Linked DNA regions of Homo sapiens: region 2 is linked to region 1. A link means that fine-mapping ties the variant in region 1 to the expression of a gene that starts in the linked region. Tissue or cell type: whole blood. Region 1 holds a variant in brackets; the other region holds the start of a gene. All regions are shown on one strand. Distances are from middle to middle.

Region 1 (8,182 bases):
TATCCCCTGTGTCCTCTCTCCTTCACACTTAGTCTCTTTTTCTTTCTCTTTTTCTCCCCAGTTTTACTTTTCTCTCTGTTGGTCTTTCCCAAATAATGAAAAGGAGTGGAGGTCTGAATTTTATCAGATGATATTGTCAGGCCTGCGTTTGCAACCTCTGTCTGCAGAAATGTGTAACAGTCAATTAATTTGTCTCTGGTTTCTGGAGCACACAAAATATTATCAACATAATGAATAATACAACAGTCTGAAAACTTGTCTCTCATTGGTTGAAGAACTTGAGCTACAAAAGTCTGACAAATAGTTGGACTATTAAGCATTCCCTGAGGCAACACTTTCCACTGAAATCTGGTGGCTGGTTCTTTATTATTTACGGCTGGTATAGTAAAAGCAAATTTTTCAAAATCCTGTTTTGCCACAGGAATGGTAAAAAAGCAATCCTTTGAATCAATTATAATTAAAAGCCAATCTTTGGGGGTCATGGCCGGAGAGGGCAGCCCAGGTTGGAGAGGCCCCATGGGTTGAATTGCTGCATTAATGGCTCTCAAATCAGTTAGCATGCACCATCTGCCTGATTTTTTCTGAATTACAAACACAGGAGAATTCTAAAGAGAGAAAGTGGGTGGAACACATCCTATTTAAAATAGTTTTTTAACTATTTTATGTAACACCCCCAACTTTTCCTTAGAGAGCGGCCACTCTTTGACCCATACAGGAAGCTGCAGGGCAAGTCTGAATTGCTCCTTCACCGTAGTGAACTGCAGGTTGGGCAATAATGAGTGCCACGAGCCAAGTCGCAGCAAGCGTAGTTTCAGGCTCCCTCCCCCAGCACTCACTCGGCTGAGGAGGAGGTGGCCATCGTGCTTTTAACCCCAACAGCCCTGATGGTTCTGGACTTTTTCCTTTTAATTTTAATGTTTCAGGATATATTACCTCCTGTAATTGATTGTAGTCAACATTTTGCGTTGACCGAGCCATTACTGGCTCTGCTACATTTTTACCATGTGAACTTTCTGTTCCTTTCTTGAACTCTGTTTCTGCCTCTTCACAATCTATTACACAGCTTTCAGGGGCATCAGAAACTGAAACTCTAACTTCTTCTGTTTGAAATGGTTCTAAAGTTGCTTTAATAATAGCCCAATCATTCCATACTGCACGTGGGATGATTTTACCTTCCCTAGTTGCTTGTTTTAATTCTTTGCCAATTTTTTCCCAATCTTTTAAATCTAAAGTTCCCTGTTCTGGAAACCATGGGCAGAATTGTTCTATTGTTTGAAATAGCGTAATTAGATTTTCTGTAGAAGCTTTAACTCCCCCTCTTCTTAAGAGAATTTTAATGAAGCTGAGATAAGAGGCATATTTACTTGCAGTTTGCCCCATTGTTACCCTGGATTCCTCCGAGCGCACAAGCTTACCGCAAGGCTGACTGTGGATGTACTTGGGAATCTCTCGTCGGCTGTCCTCAATGCTCACGTTCTTAGCATACCTTCACCCTAGAGAAAGGCCCCCACATCGGGCGCCAGATGAAGGGGTGGCCTGCCCCTCCACACCTGTGGGTATTTCTAGTCGGGTGGGATGAGAGACTGAGAAAAGAAAGAAGACACAGAGACAAAGTATAGAGAAACAACAGTGGGCCCAGGGGACCGGCATCAGCATACCAAGGACCTGCACCAGCACCGGCCTCTGAGTTCCCTCAGTTTTTATTATTATTTTCATTATTTCAGCAAAAAGGAATGTAGTAGGAGAGCAGGGTGATAATAAGGAGAAGGTCAGCAAAAAACATGTGAGCAAAAGAATCTATGTCATAATTAGGTTTAAGGGAAGGTACTATGCCTGGATGTGCACGTAATCCAGATTTATGTTTCTCTCCACCCAAACATCTCAGCGGAGTAAAGAATAACAAGGCAGCATTACTGCAAACATATCTCGCCTCCCACCATAGGGCGGTTTTGCTACTATCTCAGAATTGAACAAATGTACAATCGGGTTTTATACCGAGACATTCAGTTCCCAGGGGCAGGCAGGAGACAGTGGCCTTCCTCTATCTCAACTGCAAGAGGCTTTCCTCTTTTACCAATCCACCTCAGCACAGACCCTTTATGGGTGTCGGGCTGGGGGATGGTCAGGTCTTTCTCATCCCACGAGGCCATATTTCAGACTATCACATGGGGAGAAACCTTGGACAATACCCCGCTTCCAAGGGCAGAGGTCCCTGTGGCTTTCTGCAGTGCATGTGCCCCTGGTTTATTGAGACTAGAGAATGGCGATGACTTTTACCAAGTATACTGCTTGTAAACATTTTGTTAACAAGGCACGTCCTGCACAGCCCTAGATCCCTTAAACATTGATTTTATACAACACGTTTTTGTGAGCTCCAGGTTGGGTCAAAGTGGCTGGGGAAAGCTACAAATTAACAACATCTCAGCAAAGCAATTGTTTAAAGTACAGGTCTTTTTCAAAATGGAGTCTCTTATGTCTTCCCTTTCTACATAGGTACAGTGACAGTCTGATCTCCCTCTCTTTTCCGTACAATTTACATTTTTTCTAATATATTAATTCAATGCTATAAATTTTCCTTTAAGCACTGCTTTCACTGCATCCCACTGATTATCCCACTGAAATAAGTTGTATTTTCATTTTCATTTAGTTCAACATATTTTTAAGTTTCAGATTTCTTGTTTGTGTTACTTAGAAGTGTGTTGTTCAATATCCATGTGTTTTGAGATTTTCCTTTTAATCTTTCTGTTACTGATTTCTGGTTTCATTCCATTGTGGTCTGACAGCACATATTATATGATTTCTATTCTTTGAAATTTGTTAAGATGTGTGTTATGACTAAGAATTGCGTCTATCTTCGTGAATGTCTTGGGAATTGGAGATGAATGTGTAATCTGTTGAATGAAGTAGTCTACTGATATCAGTTGATTGATGGTGCTGTTAAGTTCAGCTGTGTTCTTAACGATTTTCTGCCTGCTGGATCTGTCCAGTTCTGAAAGAGGGGTGTTGAAGTCCCCAAGTGTAATAGTGCATTCATCTGTTTCTCCTTGCTGTTTTATCAGGCTCTGCCTAATGTATTTTGATGGTTTGTTGTTAGGCACATGCACACTAAGGATTTTTATGATTTCTTTCTTGGAGTATTGACTCCTTTATCATTATGCAATGCTCTTCTTTAACCTTGCTCTGAAGTCTGCTGTGTCTGAAATTAATTTAGCTACGTCTCTTTCTTTTGATAAGTGTTAGTATGGTATACCTTTCTGTACTCACTTATTCTAAATCTATATGCATCTTCATATTTAAACTAGGTTTCTTGTACACAACATATAGTTGGGTCTTGTTTTGTGATGCACTCTGACAATGTCTTAAGTTAGTGTATTTAGACTGTTGACCTTCATTTTTAAAATTTATTTAATTTTTGGCTGGGTGTGGTGGCTCACGCCTGTAATCCTGGCACTATGGGAGGCCAAGGTGGGCAGATCATGAGTTCAGGAGATTGAGACCATCCTGGCTAACATGATGAAACCTCGTCTCTACTAAAAGTACAAAATATTAGCCAGGTGTGGTGGTGGGCACCTATAGTCCCAGCTACTCGGGAGGCTGAGGCACGAGAATGGCGTGAACCCGGGAGGCGGAGGTTGCAGTGAGCCGAGATCACACCACTGCACTCCAGCCTGGGCAACAGAGCGAGACTCTGTCTCAAAAAAAAAAAAAAAATTACTTATTTCTTTAGAGACAGGATCTCCCCATTTCCCAGGATAGAGTGCAATGATACAATCATAGCTCACTGCTGTCTCAAATTCTTGGGCTCAAGAGATCCTTTTGCCTCAGTCTCCCAATGTGCTGGGATTATATGCATGAGGCACCACATCTAACCATGTGTGTGTGTGTGTGTGTGTGTGTGTGTGTTTTTGAGATGAAGTCTTACTCTGTAGCCCAGACTGGAGTGCAGTGGCGCAATCTTGGCTCACTGCGACCTCCCCCTCCTGGGTTCAAGCAATTCTGCCTCAGCCTCCTATGTAGCTGAGATTACAGGTGCCCACCACCACACCTGGCTAATTTTTGTATTTTTAGTAGAGACGGGATTTCACCATGTTGGCCAGGCTGGTCTCTAACTCCTGACCTCAGGTGATCTGCCCACCTCGACCTCCCAAAGTGCTGGGATTACAGGCGTGAGCCTACGCACCCAGCCCCCTTTTGTGTTTTTTATTGAGCATTTTATATGATTTCATTTTCTCTTCTTTCTTAGCATATTGATTATACTTCTTTTTCTCATGGTTGTCCTAAAGTTTGCAATATACATTCTTTTTTTTGAGATGGAGTCTTGTTCTGTCACCCAGGCTGGAATGCAGTGGCATGATCTCTCCTCACTGCAGCCTCCACCTCCCGAGTTCAACAGATCCTCCTGCCTCAACCTCCATAGTAGCTGGGATTACAGGCATGCGTGCTACCATGCCTGGCTAATGGTCTGCATTTTTAGTAGAGATAGGGTTTTGCCATGTTGGCCAGGCTGGTCTCAAACTCCTGACCTTAAGTAATCCACCTGCCTTGGCCTCCCAAAGTGCTAGGATTACAGGCATGAGCCAC[T/C]ATGCCCAGCCTACATTTATAAATAATCCAACCCTACTTTCAAATAATACTGTGCCACTTCATGTGTAGTGCAAGTACCTTATAATAAAATATTTCTCATTTTTTCCTCCAGTCCTTAGTATCACTGTTGTCATTCATTTCACTTATATGTAAGCTATAATCATAAAATACATTGTTATTATCATTATTTTTTTGAGACAGAGTCTCGCTCTGTTGCCCAGGCTGGAGTGCAGTGGCACGATCTTGGCTCACTGCAACCTCTGCCTCCCGGGTCCAAGCGATTCTCCTATCAGCCTCCTGAGTAGCTGGGACTATAGGTGTGTGCCACCATGCCTGGCTAATTTTTTGTATTTTATTTTATTTATTTATTTTTGAGACAGAGTCTTGCTCTGTCACCCAGGCTGGAGTGCAGTGGCACTATCTTGGCTCATCCGCCTCCTGGGTTTAAGCGATTCTTCTGCCTCAGCCTCCTAAGTAGCTGGGACTACAGGCGCGAGCCACCACGCTCAGCTAATTTTTGTATATTTAGTAGAGACGGGGTGTCACCATATTGGCCAGGCTGGTCTCCAACTCCTAGACCTTGTGATCTGCCCGCCTCGGCCTCCCAAAGTGCTGGGATTACAGGCGTGAGCCAACGTGCCCAGCCTTGTATTTTATTTTTTGAGATGGAGTCTTGCTCTGTCACCCAGGCTGGAGTGCCATGGCATGATCTTGGCTCACTGCAGCCTCTGCCTCCCGGGTTCCAGACATTGTCCTGCCTCAGCTTCCTTCCTGGGTAACTGGGATTACAGGTGCACACCACCACGTCCGGCTAATTTTTGTATTTTTAGTAGAGACGGGGTTTCACCGTGTTGGCCAGGCTGGTCTCAAACTCCTGACCTCAGGTGATCTGCCGGCCTTAGCCTTCCAAAGTGCTGGGATTACAGGCATGAGCCACTGTGCCCGGCCAATACATTGTTATTATTTTGAACAAGCTGTTATCTGTGAGGTTAATTAAGAATAAGAAAACTAAGGCTGGGTGCAGTGGCTCACACTTGGAATCTCAGTACTTTGGGAGGCTTGGGTGGGAGGTGCTTGAGCCCAGGAATTTGAGGCTCTAGTGAAATATAATCCCAACACTCTTCTGTAACCTGGGCAATAAAGCAAGACCCTGTCTTTTAAAAAAATAAAATATTTATTTTACTTTTACTTATTTCTTCTTAAATGCTATTCCTTTCTTCATGTAGGTCTGAGTTTCTGACCTGTATCATTTTCCACCTCTCTGAAGAACTTCTTTCAACATTTCTTGCAGGGCAGGTGTACTGGCAACAAATTCCTTAAAAAAACTTTTATTTTTCTAAGAGAGTAATTTCTCCTTCACTTTTGAAGGATAATCTCACAGGCTACAGAATTGTGGGCTTGAGAGTTTTTTTTTTTTCTCTCAGCACTTCAAATATTTCACTCCACTCTCCTTGTTCTTTTTCTTGGTTTCTGAGAAGATCTGATGTACGGTAATCCTCCCCTATCTTCAGGGGATATTTTCCACAACCTCCGATGGATGCCTGAAAATGCAGATAGTATTGAACCTCATTGCCATTGGTTAGAGTATGTTTCTGTTCATGTCTTCCATCCAAAAATTTAATGCCTTTTCCGTTTTTTTTTTTTTTTTTTTTTTTTTTTGGCAGGGTCTTACTTTGTCACCCAGGCTGGAGTGCAGTGGTGTTATCATAGCTCACTGCAGCCTCGAGCTCCTGGGCTTAAGCGATCCTTTCACCTCAACCTCCTGAGTAGCTGGGACCACAGGTGCATACCACCACACTTGGCTAATTTAAAAAAATTTTTTTAGAGATGGGTGCTCCATATCTTGCCCAGCTGGTTGCAAACTTCTGGCCTCAAGCACTTAGGCAATCCCCTTGTCTTGGCCTCCCAAAATTCTGGGATGACAGGCATGAGCCACCTTGCCTGGCCCTTTTACACCTTAACTAAGCACTTATGCACTTGTGGTTGCAACTTTAGCAGTTTGAGGTGCAACAGCGAAACTAGCTGAGTTGCTTTTTTTCTTCTTCATATGAATAGAAGACTCATTCTGCTGTAATCTTAGCAACCTCAGCATATGAGAGAGTTTTTCCTTATTGAGTGGAGAAGAAATTTCACATTTTCCCATTAAGGAAGCACTTTGTAGCTTCTTTTTGGCATATCTGAATTGTCAGCATCACTATTCTTGTGCTTTGGGGCCATGATTAAGTAAAATAAGGGTCAGTTGAACACAAGCACTACGATACTGCATCAGGTGATCTGACAGCTCCTAAGTGACTAACAGGTGGGTAGCATTCGCAGCATAGATATGCCAGGACAATTCACATTCGGGGTGGGGTGGAGCAGGATGGTGCGAGACGTCACACTACTCAGAATGGTGTACAGTTTAAACATGAATTATTTCTGGAATTTTCTATTTAATACTTTTAAATATTGAACAAAGGTAACTGAAGTGGTGAAAAACTACAGAGGAGAGGACTACTGTAATTCCCAGCCTTGTTCCTTTATAGGTAAGGTTTTTTTCCTTTGACTTCTTTTTTCTTTGTATTTGATTTTCTGAAATTGGAATATAATATACCTAATTGTAGGGGTTTTTGTGAGGGGCGAGAGGGCACTTACCTTGCTTGGTGTTCTCTGTGTTTCCTCCATCTGTGGTTTGGTTTATGACATTAATTTGGGGAAATTCTCCGTCATTATTTCCTCAAAGACTGCTTCTGTTCTTCCTTCTTTTTTAGTATTTCTGTTATGCGTATATTACATCATTTGTAGTTGTCCTACAGTTCTTGGATAATCTGTTCCTTTTTTTTCCCTCAATATTTTATCTGTTTTTCAGTTTTGGACGTTTCTATTGAGATATCTACACAGAATACTTATGAGCCCATTGAAGGCATTCTTTATTTTCATTACAGGAATTCTTTTGAGATGGAGTCTCGCTCTGTCACCCAGGCTGGAGTGCAGTGGCGCGATCTCAGCTTACTGCAAGCTCCACCTCCCGGGTTCACGCCATTCTCCTGCCTCAGCCTCCCGAGTAGCTGGGACTACAGGCAGTCGCTACCACGCCCGGCTAATTTTTTGTATTTTTAGTAGAGACGGGTTTCACTGTGTTAGCCAGGATGGTCTTGATCTCCTGACCTTGTGATCTGCCAGCCTCCACCTCCCAAAGTGCTGGGATTACAGGCGTGAGCCACTGCACCTGGCCCATTACAGGAATTTTTATTTCTAGTATTTCCTTTTGATTCTTTCTTAAAATTTTCATTTATCTCCTTACATTATCCATCTCATCTTGCATCTTGTATACTTTTTCCCAGTAAAACTGTTAGCATATTAATCATAGTTTCTTAAGTTCCTGGACTGATAATTCCAACATTCCTACCGTATCTGTCTCAGATTCTGATGCTTGTTCAGTCTGTTCAAACTTTTTTTTTTTTGCCATTTAGTATACCTCATAATTTTACATTGAAGGGTGGACATGATGTACTGAGTAAAAGGAACTGCCTTTTGTAATGTAGTGGTAAGGTGTTGAGGGAAGAGAAGCATTTTGTAATCTTAAAATCATGGTAAGCCTGTGCTTCTGGACTAAGAACTT
Region 2 (8,182 bases), 33 kb after region 1:
AAAAAAAGATAAACTTAAGGAACTTTTCTAGAAAGCTGATCTTGGCTGAACACAGTGGCTTACGCCTGTAATCCAGCACTTTGGGAGCCGAGGTAGGCGAATCACTTCAGGTCAGAATTCTAAGACCAGCCTGGCCAACACAGTGAAACCCCGTCTCAAATAAAAATACAAAAAAAAAAAAAAGCTAGATGTGTTGGTGCACACCTGTAATCCCAGCTACTCGGGAGGCTGAAGCAGGAGAAATGCTTGAACCCAAGAGGTGGAGGCTGCAGTGAGCCGAGATGTGCCACTGCACTCCAGCCTGGGCAACACAGTGAGACTCTGTTTCAATAAATAAATGAATAAATAAGTAAAGCTGATCTAAAAGAAAAAGTAAGAATAAATAAAAAAAGACCACTATATGAGCAATTTAAGGTACCCCAGATTACTCAGAGTTCCAGAAAGAAAAAACAAGAGGAAGAAACAAACAAGTACAGGAAAACTTTTTTTTTTTTTTTTTTTTTTTGAGACGGAGTCGCCCAAGCTGGAGTGCAGTGGCACAATCTCGGCTCACTGAAACCTCTGCCTCCCGGGTTTAAGCAATTCTCTGCCTCAGCCTCCGAAGTAGCTGGGATTACAGGCGCCGGCCACCACGCCCGGCTAATTTTCTTATTTTTAGTAGTAGAGATGGGGTTTCACCATCTTGGCCAGCCTGGTCTTGAACTCCTGACCTCATGATCCACCCACCTCGGCCTCCCAAAATGTTGGGATTACAGGCGTGAGCCACGGTGCCCGGCCAGAAACTTCTTATTCCTTAAAAAAACACAGTATCTAAGAACTGATCCATCAAAGCAAGTAATTTCTTTAAATAATTAGAACACACATCATCATGAAATTTTTGAATACCAAAGAGCTCCAAGAGATGATAAACAGATTACACATAAAAGAACAAGGTATGAAATAGGACTTCTCAACAGTAACAGTAACACTGCTCCATTTCCTATCTAGCTTCACTGGCTTTCAAAATTCTAATGGAAAGTAATTTCCTATTGAGATGTGTATACTCGGTGAAAACACCACACAAATGTGAGGAAAAAGTAATTTCTAATCATTTCTACAACTTTAATATATGTAGATCATATGGACCCTTTCTTCAAGGCAGTTAAGATTACAATCCACCAAACAGGAATAGAAGTGCTTTACAGGAAACAGGAGATTTAACACAGAGGTGAGATGAGGAAATTGATGAGGGCAAAAGGGAAGCCCAGTGGTATGCCAGCGTGCTGCATGCCTACAGAGTAACTGATCAATCTACATTGCAGGGGGATGTCCAGGAAAGGAGAAAAGTGATAAGACTGTATGACAGATTAGCCCTTGAGGAAAATGGAACCAAAAGACATTTTACATAGATTTAAGAAAAACTAAGCAAATGAATAAAAAAGGCAGTCATTAAAAACAAGAAAGGTAAACCTTGCACAAGAAAGAAACATATTATGGCTCAGTACTAAAGAGTAGTCATCAAATGAAAACACTGAACATATTTATCCAAAATTTGTGGGAGAACTACATTATAATATTTGTAAAATAATTACATTGTGATTTAAGGATGTAGAAAGAAGGCAGCCAAAGTTCTTATTTAACATGATAAAAATTTTAAAATAATGTCACAAATCGGTGAATAAAAAAATACTGAGAGGAGTTCGAAGCCAGAACTGCTTAAATATTTCCAAGTGGTTGCCACTGGGAAGAGATGGGGTTAAGGTGTTTCCTGTTTTTATTATGAGTCTTTTAACATATTCAGCTCTTAAAAATGTACACACACATTTCTTGGAGCACAAATAAAGAGTAGTAAATTAATTACCCAGTCAAATCAAGAAGCAGATGGCCAGGCACGGTGGCTCACGCCTGTAATCCTAGCACTTTGGGAGGCCAAGGCGGGCGGATTGCCTGAGCTGAAGAGTTCGAGACCAGCCTGGGCAACACCGTGAAACCCCGTCTCTACTAAAAAATACAAAAAATTAACCGGGCATGGCAGTGTGCGCCTGTGATCCCAGCTATTCCAGAGGCTGAGGCAGGAGAATGGCTTGAACCCGGGATGTGGAAGTTGCAGTGAGCAGAGATCCTGCCATTGCATTCCCGCCTGGGCGAGAGAGAGAGACTCTGTCTCAAAAACAAACAAACAAACAAAAACAAAAATTAGCTGGATTAGCCGGGCGTGGTGGGGCCTGAGGCAGGAGAATCGCTTGAATCCGGGTGGTAGAGGCTACAGTGAGCCGAGATCACGCCACTGCACTCCAGCCTGGAGACAGAGTGAAACTCTGTCTCGAAAAAAAAAAAAAAGTAGAAAAACAGAGACAAAGTAAAAGAAAAATTTAAAAATTAAGAGCAAAACTTACTGTAATAGGACCCCCCTCCCCAAAAAAGACCAAAACAAAACAACAAAAAAACCAAAACCAAATCTACATTTTTGAAAAGACTATGTACACATATACCTTATAGGAGTAATCAAGAAAAAAAGGCCTAGATAATTAGGTTCAAAAAAGAAAAAAATAACAATTACAGCAGTAAAATATTAAAAAGTGGTGATTTTAAAAATCACCATAGAAATTACTTACAGTGATAAAATAGCATGGGCAATTTTATGCCAATAAATTTGAAAAATTAGATTAAAAACAATTATCTAGGAAAGGTATCTAAAACAGAATACGAACTAAAAAACCTAATCAATGAGACTTTTTAAAAAATTGAGTCAGGGCCGGGTGCGGTGGCTCACGCTTGTAATCTCAGCGCTTTGGGAGGCCGAGGCAGGCTGATCACCTGAGGTCGGGAGTTCCAGACCAGCCTGACCAACATGGAGAAACCCCATCTCCACTAAAAATACAGAATTAGCTGGGCGTGGTGGCTCATGTCTGTAATCCCGGCAACTCACAAGACTGAGGCAGAAGAATCACTTGAACCCGGGAGGCGGAGGTTGCTGTGAGCCAAGATGGCGCCATTGCACTCCAGCCTGGGCAACAAAGAGCGAAACTCTGTCTCAAAAAAAAAAAAAAAAAAAATTGAGTCAGAAGTTAAATGCGTACTAAATATTTTAAGACCAAATAGCACCAAACTTTTGGAGGCGGGCGGGGGGCGGTGAGGGGTGGTGACCTGTTTTACAGAATAGAAGAGAGACTGTGCTGTCCAAATTATTCATGAAGCTTGTAAAATCTTGTTAGTATAACGGGCAAGGATAGTACACAAAAAGATTAAAACACAATCTTGTGAGCATAGGTGAAGTCAAAGGGAAACAGCCAATTGAATACACCAGAGTATTAAAGAAATAAAACCATATCGCATTCAACCACAGTATAAGGCAATAGGTGAAAAAAACGATGGCTGTGATTCAACTCATTACTAGGTTTAGAGATTCAAGAGAGGCTGCTGGACAGAGGCGTGCACCCTTTAGCCCTCCCGTGTTGCTTAGAGAAGGAGGCAAACGCGCATCCCCGGCCCCCCAGCGCTCCCTGCGTGGCACCCGCAGCCAGCCCGGGACCCCTCCGCCCCGCGCGCCCCTGGTCCCCACTCGCTCCCCGCGCTCCACTCGCACCCGGTAAGTAGCCCCTCCTCCCTCAAGGGCCTCTCCCACCGCCGCCTCCCGGGCAGGCTCCCTGCTGCTCAGACTCCCGTGAGGCGATCCCTGCACGCAGGAGAACTCAGCGGGCCAGGCTGATCCCACGAGGGACTTGTCCCGGGTGAACGAGCCACAGGCCCGCATGCTCACCCGTCCTCAGTGCCTGCCTCCAGGCGTCCGCGGTCCCGCCCGAGGGGGACGCGAGGCCGAACTACGTTTCCCAGGAGCTCCTGCGCCGCCCCGCAGAGGGGCCTGGTCTGTGCGTCACGGACGCGCTCTGGGCCGAAGGCCCGCAGGGTCCGGCACAGAGTGGCGGCTGCGGCGCCGGCGACGAATCGCCGGCTCTAGGGTCCCGGGGCGCGCGGCTGACGGGCTGGGGGCGGAGCGTGGCCTGAACGCCAGGCTGGGGCGCGTGCGTAACGGTGTGTGTTGTGGGTGCGTGTGCGTGCGTTCGCAGCAGGGGCGGGCGTAGGACCAATGGGGGCGGGGCGCGTGCGCGTGCGTGACGTCAGGCCACGGGGAGGTGGCGCCGCCGTGCCGAGCCGGCCTCAGACTCACCTCTGACGCCGCTCTTCGCGCTCCGCTGGTGAATGGAGTCGCGTTCTCTGTTTTGCTGTTGCTGCTGCCTTTGTGACGGGATCGCTTTCTCCCATCGAACCTTCTAGTTGCTTATTGCAGGTATATACGAAAGTGCTGAATTTTGTGTTTGCATCGTCATCAGGCGCGTGTTGAGCCCTTTAGTAATGTAGCAGTGTATTAGCTTCGTATTTCTAGGTAGACGGTAATTTCGTCAATGAAAAAATTTAACGGTGATCGTCACCCCTTGCCTCAGTCACTTTCTGTCCCTCGCGCGGCCCCGGCGTTCACGGCGGACGTTCTTGTTCTGTGGAGAATAACGGCTGCACCTGGAGATTGACGCAGAGTGGGCGGCGGTGGTGGTAAGTTTGAACCAGATATTTTCAGTAATACAAAATAAGGTTTCTTCTAGTCTAACTTCCATTTTTCCCCCCAGCTGGGATAGATGTTTAAAATTTTGCATATGGCCTTTCTAGTATTTGTTGAAATAGTGACGCCGATTCGTGTGTGGTCTTTTAAAAACAAATCCTGCATCTCTAGCTCTTAGCTTCCTCATCTTTGTTTTGTTTTTTAATCAGATAGATTAACTGAAGGCGTGTTTGTGTGGTTAATCTATTTTTTTTATTTTCAGAGACAGATCATAAGTTTAATTACTATATTTTTATTTTCCCTTGACACTAGATATATATACGCCATCTAACACATAATATGAGTGTCAAAGATAAGGTTAACATCAAGATTTCGTACGTAGATCCCACCCAAAGTGTATGCAGAAGGTGAACAATTTCAATTCCAGCTATACATTAATTGCAGAAAGATACTGTTAATTAAAAAAAAAAAAGTAAAAGGGAAGGCAGGATGTCACCCAGAATGCCAGCCAACAAGTGTTATTAGGTTAGAAATGACTGCAGTTAGGTCTCCGAGAACTGGATAGCACAAATCCTCCCTACCCTTTTGAAAATTACCTCCACACTAACTTTTCTCTTGTGACATAACTAATCTCTTCTGTTTTACTAAAATTGTCCCCCATCTTCCAAAGCCTCTTGGATGGTAAGTTGCACACGCTCCTGCCTCTTTTTGAAAGTTACATTTGTTTTTTGATTACTTCTCTCAGCATGCATTTCTTTAGCTCTTAGTATATGCTAGTCACAAGGGCAGAGATTTGAGATACACATCATAAATTAAATGAGAATTTCTGCTTATCAGTATTTTATATAAGCACTGTCTGGAAATTCTACTTAGGACAATATTTAAGTAGATATGAGGCTTACCTTCTGGAAAAGAGATTACAAAATTATCCTTGTTAATTAATTAACTAATTAAGTCCCCAAAATGAGAAGAGATTCAATTACTATCAATAATTTGTAGTAAAGTGACTGAAAAGGAAATATATAAGCTAATAGATTGATTGCCGTCCTCAACAAGTTAGCACATACTTTTATTTTTAAAAAGTCTTCACAATAGGAAGAAAATAATTTTAGCTAGAAATATATGTGAACTATATGAGAAAAACTTCAAAACCTTACTAGGCAATTCTTACTAGAAGAATAAAGGATGAGTAAGAATAAAAACAGTTCTGTTTATAGATTATATTCAATTGTCAAGAAAATCTGAGAATTTTTTTTTTTTTTTTTGAGATAGAGTTTTGTTCTTGTTGCCCATGCTGGAGTGCAATGGCTCGATCTTGGCTCACTGCAACCTCTGCCTCCTGGGTTCAAGCAATTCTCCTGCCTCAACCTCCCTAGTAGCTGGGATTACAGGCGCCAGCCACCATGCCCAGCTAATTAACATATGCCAGTCACAAGGGCAGAGATTTGAGATACACATCTTAAATTAACAAGAGCAACAAGAGCGAAACTCCGTCTCAAAAAAAAAGTATTTTAAGGAAAAAGAAATTTCTTATTGTTAATATCTCTGTTGTGCCTACAAGAGACTCTTTTACTTTCATCAGCAGTACTCTTTCTAGCATGTCTCATGTCAGCCAGGGCTTTTAATTCTTCTGGCTATGAAGCAAGGTTGGGACAAGATATGATATAGGCCACCTTTGTCTGTGTATGTGCCTCTTTGACTCGTAATGAACATCCAAGAGCATTATTTTTTCCTCTTTCCACACAATATCTCCTTGCTGACTGATCCTAACATTTCCTGTTCAAAATTTTATTATGAAGAATTTTGAGCATACAGCTAAATTAAAAGAAGTTTACAGTGAATACTTATAAACCTTCCCATCTAGACTCTACCATTAATATTTTACTGTACCTAATTTTAACACATACCCATCTGTCCCTCTTTTTATCCATCAGTTCATTGTATTTTTAAATTTTTTTCAAAGTAAATTGACATGGGTACGTATTCCTTAAAAATTTCAGAATACGTATGTATTATTAATTAGAATTCTATATTTGTTTAGATTTTTCTTTAGATGTAAAATTTACATAACATGAAAAGCGCAAATCTTAAGTGTACATTTGCTGAGTTTTGACAGATGCAGGATCTTTGCCTTTTGTATCTTTAAGTATATCTTTGCCATGTCTATTGGTTACCGAGTTTTAACTTTGTGGCTGCTGGGTCCTTTTTGCTGATCATACCTTGCCCTTTGCTGAAGCAAATACTGGTAAACCTATTCAGAACTTGAAGAGACCCTGTTCTCTTTATTAATGAACATGTACTCCATGTCCCCAAGTGAAATGCGGTTCCTGACGAGGTTGTACCTGTCAATGTGAGTGCTGGTTAAGTATAGTCACATGTCAGAGTGAATGAATATGAAGTGCTAAGCACTTTGCTAGCCTCTTCCCAGGATTTAGAATGAGATTGTCCTAATTCTTAAGTGGTTCACTATCTCATAAGGGAGACAGACAAATCTTGGTACCGTAAGGCAGCGTTGAAGTGCTGGAATAGGGCATGGGCAGAGTCCTTCATGTTTACGGATGATAGAACCACTGATCCTCTCTGAGATAGTGGGAAGGCGTCACAGCATAGATGGCATTAAAGTGATCCTTAGAGAATATGGGGCAAGTGTAGTGGGAGTTAAGTTGAAAAGGGTCCAGAACGTTGTTGTGAAACTTGTACGCTAAGTGTTTGATTGGAGCTGTGCTTTGGAACTGCGTGTGCCTCAAATAGTAACTTTCATAGCCTTCTTGCCGATACTTGGAGCTTCTTTTCAGCCCATCTCTGCCCTTGTGGCAGCCAAAATAATGGCTCCCCAGAGATATCCCCAGCACCTGGGAATATTTTACCTTATACTGCAAAATAAAATTTGCAGTTGTGATTCAATGAAGGATCTCAAGATGGGGAGAGATTATCCTGGATTATTTCAGTGGGCTTAGTGTAATAACAGGGGTCCTTAAAAGTAAAAGAGCTGGGTGGCCGGGCACGGTGGCTCACGCCTGTAATCCCAGCACTTTGGGAGGCCAAGGTGGGGAGATCACCTGAGGTCAGGAGTTCGAGACCAGCCTGGCCAACTTGGTGAAACCCTGTCGCTACTAAAAATACAAAAAAAAAAAAAAAAAAATTAGCTGAGTGTGGTGGTGGGCGCCTGTAATCCCAGCTATATGGGAGGCTGTGGCAGGAGAATCACTTGAACCCAAGAGGCGGCGGTTGCAATGAGCCGAGATTGCTTCACTGCACTCCAGCCTGGGCAACAGAGCAAGACTCCCTCTCAAAAAAAAAAAGTAAAAGGGGGATAAGAAGGTTAGCAATCAGGGAAATATAACCATGAAAGAAAGGCACAGAGAAATGTATCATTGCTGGCCTTGCAGGTGGAGGAAGGGTCAGGAGCCAAGGAGTGTAGATGGTCCTAGACACTGGACGGGGGCAAGGAAATAGATTCTTCTCTAGAGCCTCCAGAAGGAACACAGCTCTGCCAACACCTTAATTTTAGCCCTCCGAAACCTGTATCAGACTTCTGACCTCCAGAATTGTTATGTAACAAATGTGTGTTGTTGAAAACCACAAAGTTTTGATAATTGGCAGCAATGGAAAACTAATATAGCCCTCTGTCCTTAAGAGTTTACCAAA

Evidence for each region. PIP is the estimated chance that this variant, and not a neighbour inherited with it, causes the effect.
Region 2: ZNF10 starts here. The variant in region 1 is fine-mapped to the expression of ZNF10 in whole blood (TOPMed, PIP above 0.99).

What each region holds. Positions count from the first base shown.
Region 1 is chr12:133,093,948-133,102,129 of GRCh38, forward strand. The region is part of intron 4 of ZNF140 (zinc finger protein 140); the gene reads left to right. Among named protein-coding and RNA genes, the nearest start is that of ZNF140, 17 kb to the left of the region's middle. The variant T/C (reference allele first, on the strand shown) is at 4,582.
Region 2 is chr12:133,126,488-133,134,669 of GRCh38, forward strand. ZNF10 (zinc finger protein 10) reads left to right here and starts at 4,140. Exons shown (of 5, transcript NM_015394.5): 1 at 4,140-4,267. ZNF891 (zinc finger protein 891) reads right to left here and starts at 3,787. Exons shown (of 2, transcript NM_001277291.2): 1 at 3,740-3,787. RefSeq lists silencers at 3,403-3,582, 3,953-4,192 and enhancers at 4,243-4,522, 5,605-5,774.